2 linked regions of the Homo sapiens genome follow. The protein of the gene in region 2 interacts with the protein of the main gene of each other region in a biochemical or structural test. Each region holds a gene or a part of one and is shown on either strand. Other genes may lie near its edges.

Region 1 (3,156 bases), on a different chromosome or scaffold from region 2:
TTCATCCACTGCCAATGAAGTCAAATTTATAACAGCCACCTTGACAGTCGAAGCTAGGCCAAGTTAAAATAATTAATTCCAGAGAACTTCAAAGTGCATTAATCAGTTAATAATGGAGCAATCTAAACTTAAATAGTCGTGAGAAAAAAAGGAAACCCTGTTAAAAATTTTAGGGGTGAAAATATTGCAGATGAGGGTTATCAATCCAGTTCATGACAATGTAAAGAATGGAAATGACTACTCCAACATATGTCAGAGAAATGATAACTTTGAAGACTTTTAATTCACAGAGAATATATTCCTGTGGTTACTGGATGTTATCTTCCTTTCTTTTTAGCCAGTACCACAGCTCTCCCTCTCAAATGAAAATCTGATGTCAAAAGCTGTTTCACTGACCTCTATTTGGACTAGAAAGCACTCTAGTCTTTCTAGTCTTAAACTCCTTAACAATAATTAAATATAACTGAAGTTGTTGGATTATGATAAAACTATAAAGCATCAATTATATAGCGGAACATATAAAAATCACCAGAGACATCTTTAGATGAATTCAATTAAATTAATTCTAATTCTAGGCTAAGTTTTTTTTCCTTTTATTTATTTATCCCCCACCACGCTGCCCAAAAAAAAGACAGGGTCTCCCTATGTTGCCCAGGCTGGTCTTTAACTCCTGGGCTAAAGGGATCCTCCTGCCTCGGCCTCCCAGAGTGCTAGGATTACAGGTATGAGCCACCATGCCCGGCCCTAGGTTAACTTCTTAAAACAATGAAGGAATCACAGTGTTAACATTGTTTGTAAAGTGTAGTATTTGTCAGGCAACTGAAACAATCAGACTTCCAAATGAAGTCATTTGCAGGCTGTGACCAACTTTTCCCTGAATTCAAATTGACAAAACTACTTTGTAGAGATGCAAGAGTCTTGCCTCACTTCCAGGAATGATGTATGGATTCATGCGCCAGAAAGGAAAAACAATAGTCAAGTCAGACTAAAATGAGAGGGAGAACACAAGCCCGAATTTTGCTCACATCCCCAGAAGCAGGAGTAAGCTTGCACTTTTAACAAATGCCTCTTACCAAGAGGCTTAATAGGAAAATCTTGTATATTGCAGTTACCAAAGGACTTCCCTGCATGTCTGCAGAATGTCTAAAAGAAAAAAACACTACTCCCAAGTGAGACTTTTGACACACATAAAATATTGTTGTTAAAGGAATAAACTAGTGGAATAAGACAAGGCAAATTTCATTGTTGTGTTAAAATCTCATGTTAAGCAAGGTTCTGACTAGTCATTTGCAGACCTGATTTCTGGAAACGCTGAGTAGAAATCACTGGGAGATAAATCTAAATGAGAACATTAATTTACTTACACTCAGATAACTCTCTAAAGAGCCATTGTCCAATTTTACAAGATGTGCAACAGGCAGAGAAGGACAAACATTGCAAATAAGTTCTTGCCCATTCATGGTGCAAGTTCTCAGAAGTTACTCTTGTCCAAATCCTTCTGTTTCTTCTATGGCAAACAACAGCTTTTCCTTCAGTTGCTCATAGCTCTTGTATGGTGGCAGGTCCAGGCGATTAAAACTAAAAGCAAGAATTGTTAGTTTGAGAAAAGGAAATATGCAAAGAATCAAATGAGTAGTGTAGTATACTACTTTATACACTACTATAGAAGCACAAAAATATACTACTGTGCTTCAAAGGATACCATCAAGAAAGTGAAATAACCCAAAAATGGGAAAAAATATTTGTAAATCATATATCTGATAAAGGACTGGTATCCAAAATATATAAAAAACTTAAAACTCAACAATATTTAAAAATGAACAAAGGATAGAGATTTCTCCAAAGACATACAAATGACCAATAAGCACATTAAAAAAATGCTCAACATCCTTTACCATGCAAATAAAAACCACAATGAGATACCACTTCACACCTGTTGGGATGGCTATTATTTAAAACACCAAAACAACAACAACAACAACCAAAAAAAAAAAAAAAAAAAAAAAAAACAGAAGAAAACAAGAGTTGAAAAGGATGTGAGGATGTGGAGAAATTGGAGCCCCTCTGCACTACAGGTAGGAATATAACGCAGTGTAGTCACTATGGAAAACAGTATGGCGAGATTCCCCCAAAAAATTAAAAATAGAATTACTACATGATCAAGGAATTCCACCTCTGGGTATATACCCAAAACAACTGAAAGCAGGGCCATGGACAGATATATCTATATTCTACCACAGTATACCTATGTTTATAGCAGCATAAACAGCCAAAAGGTGGAAATAATCTAAGTGTCCATGGACAGATGAATGTATAAACAAAATGTAGTATATCCAGACTATCAAATATTATTCAGCATTAAAAAGGAGGAAATGCTGACACATGCTACAACATGGATGAAAATTAAAGATATTATTCTAAGTGAAATAAGCCAGCCAGGAAAGGACAAATAAGGTACGATTCTACACTTACGAAGTACTAAAGAATCATAGAAACAGTAGTAGAATGATGTTTGCCAGGACCTGGGGAAAGGGAGTCATGGGGAGTCATTGTTTAAAGCAGCAGTCTCCAGCCTTTTTGGCACCAGGCAATGGTTTTGTGGAAGACAATTTTTCCATGGACAGGAGTGGAGAGGGGGATGGTTTCAGGATGAAACTGTTCCACCTCAGGTTAGATTCTCGTAAGGAATGCACAATCTAGATCCCTCACATGCACAGTTCACAATAGTTATTGCTCCTATGAGAATCTAATGCCTCTGCTGATCTGACAAGTGGTGGAGCTCAGCAGGTAATGCTCATTCACCCTCCACTTACCTCCTGCTGTGCAGCCCAGTTCCTAACAGGCTGGGGACCAGGAGTTGGGGACCCCTGCTTTAATGGGTACCATTTCAATTTTACAAGATGAAAAATGTTTTAGGTCTGGCATGATGGCCTGTAATTCCAGCACTTTGGGAGGTCAAAGCAGGAGTATTGCTTGAGCTCAAGAGGTCGAGACCAGCCTGAGCAACAAAGTAAGACTCTGTCTCTACAAAAAGTTTAGAAATTGGCCAGGTGTGGTAGCACATGCCTGTCGTCCCAGCTACTTGGGAGGCTAAGGTAGGAGGACAGTTTGAGCCCGGGAGGTGGAGGGTGCATGAGTGGAGATTGAGCTACAGCA
Region 2 (3,656 bases):
GTTTCTTACAAAACTAAACATATGTCTTACCATTGGATCCAGCAATTACATTCCTTGGTATTTAGCCAAATGAATTGAAAACTTGTATCCACACAGATGCTTATAACAGCTTTATTCATTAATTGCTAAGGTTTGAAAGCAACCAAGATGTCCTTCAGTGGGTTAATGGATAAATAAATTGTGGTATATCTAGACAAATGACATTCAACACTAAGAAGAAATGAGTCTGGGTGCAGTGGCTCACACCTGTAATCCTAGTACTTTGGGAGGCCGAGACAGGCAGATCTCTTGAGCCCAGGAGTTTGAGACCAACCTGGACAACATAGCAAAACCCAGTCTCTATAAAAATACAAAAAAATTAGCTGGGGGTGGTGGTGCCTATCTGTAGTCTCAGCTACTTGGGAGGCTGAGGTGGGAGGATTGCTTGAGCCTGTGAAGTCAAGGTTGCAATGAGCCAAGATCACGCCACCATCCAGTGGGCAACAGAGCAAGACCCTGTCAAAAATAAATAAGTAAGTATGAAGTGGGGGAAAAACAAGTAACGGCTGGGCACAGTGGCTCACGCTTATAAACCCTGCATTTTGGGAGGCCGAGGCAGGCAGATCACTTGAGGTCAGGAGTTCAAGACCAGCCTGGCCAACATGGTGAAACCGCATGTCTACTAAAGATACAAAAATTAGCTGGGCATTGAGGCGGGTGCCTGTAATCCCAGCTACTTGGGAGGCTGAAGCAGGAGAATTGCTTGAACCCAGGAGGCGGAGGTTGCGGTGAGCCAAGATCGTGCCATTGCATTCTAGCCTGGGCAACAGACTCTGAAAAAATAATAATAATAAAAAGAACAAATAGCTTCTAACGACAAATTTATTTCTCACTTATTGAGGCTGGGAAGTCTGAAGATCAAGGTGCCAACAGATTCAGTGGCAACTGAGGGCCGGCTTCATGGTTTATAGATGGTGCCTTTTCACTGTGTCTTTATATGATGGAAAGGGCAAGGCAGTTCTCAGGGGCCTCTTTGATAAGGACACCAATCCCATCATGACCTAATCACTTCCCAATGGTCCCAACTCCTAATACCATCACATTGGTGATTAGGTTTCAACATAAGATTTTTGGGGAGATACATTCAGACATAGCAGCTACATATTGCATGATTCCAGCTATCATGTCTGATAACCACACAAAACCTATAGAATGTGCAACACCAAGTATGAGCCCTAACATAAACTAGGGAAGCTGAGTGGTAATGATGTGTTAAGGTAAAAGGTTCATTGGTGGTAACAAATTTGCCCCTCTGGTGAGGGATGCTGATAGTGGGAAAAGCTGTGTGTGTTCAGGGGCAGGGGGTATTTAGGAATTCTCTGTCCTTTCCTCTCAGTTTTGCTGTATACCTAAAGGTGTTCTAAAAAGTAAAGTCTATTTTTTAAAAAAGTATGAAGAGACCAGGACATCAATCTCAAGCCCCTTCTCAGTTTAGCAGATAGCTTGCTCTAGAAATACTTTTGGGTGGCTGGGTTGTCCTGAAGGTGGCAGGGCTTCAGTTGATACTTGAATCCCTTGAAATAAATTGATTTTTCAGATAAACAATTAAAACATTCCTGTCTTGGCCATAGGTTTATGAACCATGGTGTGTTCATTTTGATCTCTCTTTCCTTCCAGGACAACCCTCCATATGATAAGGGAGCCTTCAGAATCGAAATCAACTTTCCAGCAGAGTACCCATTCAAACCACCGAAGATCACATTTAAAACAAAGATCTATCACCCAAACATCGACGAAAAGGGGCAGGTCTGTCTGCCAGTAATTAGTGCCGAAAACTGGAAGCCAGCAACCAAAACCGACCAAGGTAAGACATGTGCCTGTGTCTTCCTCGGAGGGGGTCTTTGGGGGTGCTGCTCTGGGGTGGGGGCTTCTGGTACCAGATCAGACAGAATCCAGAGAATCTTTCAGGTACACGAAAAATGTAGCTGAGGTCCTGTCAGACCTTGTGGGAATGGCTCATCTCAGCTGAACTTTTGACCTGTATAGGGTTTGAGGAGGCCTTTCCAGTGCTCAGCCCTGGGCTGCCATCCACAGTGGGAACACACATGGACAGACAAGCCCAGTGGCTTGCTGCTGGTGCAGAGAGGTGCAGGCACTGGTCCCTGGAAGGGATGAAGGACTGTGGGGCTGCCTACAAGGGGAAGGGAGAGTGGGATTTAAGGTGGCCTCATGCAGTAGTTAGTGCCTGAACTCAGACTTGAAGGAGGAAAGGAGGTTGGAGAGGGCCTTCCAGGCTATAGGAAGGGCATGGGCTAGAGCCTAGTTGCTCGGGTGATGTGAGGGGAGGGACAGAGGCAGATGTAAGGGCAGTATTCCCAGATGAAGGCACGTAGTTGGCTTTAGTGGGCCTGGGATTCCCTGGAGTTGGATGTGGCTGTGCGTGGTGCACATGTCTGTGTGTGGCTGTGTGAACATAAACATGCTCATTCTTCTGGGAAGAATATTTGAGTCAGTATTGTGGTTGTCCTCCCTTTTGTCCCCTAGAAGTGACTAGTTTGTTATGGACTGTGTCTGGTTTTCATTTAATTCTAGACTTTCTTTTGAAGTCCTAATCTCATATTTTGATGGCTTCCTTTTAAGTACCTAAACCAGTATAAAGTCTGTTTAGATTAGAGTGGATGAAGCTGGCACTTGAGAGGCTGCAAGTGGAGGGTTTCTTTTAGGGGTGCTGCTCTAGGGTAGGGGCTCATGGGTCCTTCCTGATGCCAGATCAGACGGAGTCCAGAGAACTCCTACCTTACCAGGTGCACGCAAAGTATGGCTGAGGTGCCACCAGTCCCTGTGGGAATAACTCAGCTGAACTTTTGACCTGCACAGGGATTGAGGAGGTCCCTTGTTTTAGTGATTGAAAAAAGCCTTGGAAGGTGGAGTTCAAAGCCTTGCGCAAGAAAAATCAAGCCTCACTTGTTGGAAGTAATCACCATGAAAGGTGCCCATTAGACTCCCACACTGAGTAGAAGAAAGGAGTGGGTGCTAAACATTCAGTCAGGGCAGAACAGTCTCTAGTGGGCTTGGTCCTTGTTTGTGTACAAGCTGATGTTTATAAAAGCTTGACACAGTTCTTCTCAGTGCCTGGTTTTTTCTTTTCTTTTCTTTTCTTTTTTGGAAACGGAGTCTCGCTCTGTCACCAGGCTGGAGTGCAGTGGCGCGATCTCTGCTCACTGCAACCTCCGCCTCCCGAGTTCGCGCCATTCTCCTGCCTCAGCCTTCCGAGTAGCTGGGACTACAGGCACCCGCCACCACGCCCGGCTAATTTTTTGTATTTTTAGTAGAGACGGGGTTTCACCATGTTAGCCAGGATGGTCTCGATCTCCTGACCTCGTGATCCGCCCGCCTCGGCCTCCCAAAGTGCTGGGATTACAGGCGTAAGCCACCGCACCCAGCCGATTTTTTCTTTTCTTTTCTTTTTTTTTTTTTTTTTTTTTTTTTTTTGAGACGGAGTCACCCAGGCTGGAGTGCAGTGATGCCATCCCAGATCACTGTAACCTCCGCCTCCCGGGTTCAAGCAATTCTCCTGCCTCAGCCTCCTGAGTAGCTGGGATTACAGCCACCACGCTCGGCTAATTTTTGTATTTGTAGTAGAGACGGGGTTTCACCACGTTGACCAGGCTGGTCTC

What was found. Proteins that work in one complex are often made in the same cells at the same time.
Region 1: the proteins of UBE2L3 (region 2) and ITCH form a complex in vitro, tested with the Homo sapiens proteins (19 studies listed by BioGRID, with this or other methods).

What each region holds. Positions count from the first base shown.
Region 1 is NC_000020.11:34,506,117-34,509,272, reverse strand, and holds part of ITCH (E3 ubiquitin-protein ligase Itchy homolog), read right to left. Parts: intron 1,579-3,156; coding exon 1,479-1,578; 3' UTR 1-1,478. UniProt on the Homo sapiens protein: Acts as an Acts as an E3 ubiquitin-protein ligase which accepts ubiquitin from an E2 ubiquitin-conjugating enzyme in the form of a thioester and then directly transfers the ubiquitin to targeted substrates.
Region 2 is NC_000022.11:21,609,201-21,612,856, forward strand, and holds part of UBE2L3 (ubiquitin-conjugating enzyme E2 L3), read left to right. Parts: intron 1-1,656; coding exon 1,657-1,843; intron 1,844-3,656. UniProt on the Homo sapiens protein: Ubiquitin-conjugating enzyme E2 that specifically acts with HECT-type and RBR family E3 ubiquitin-protein ligases.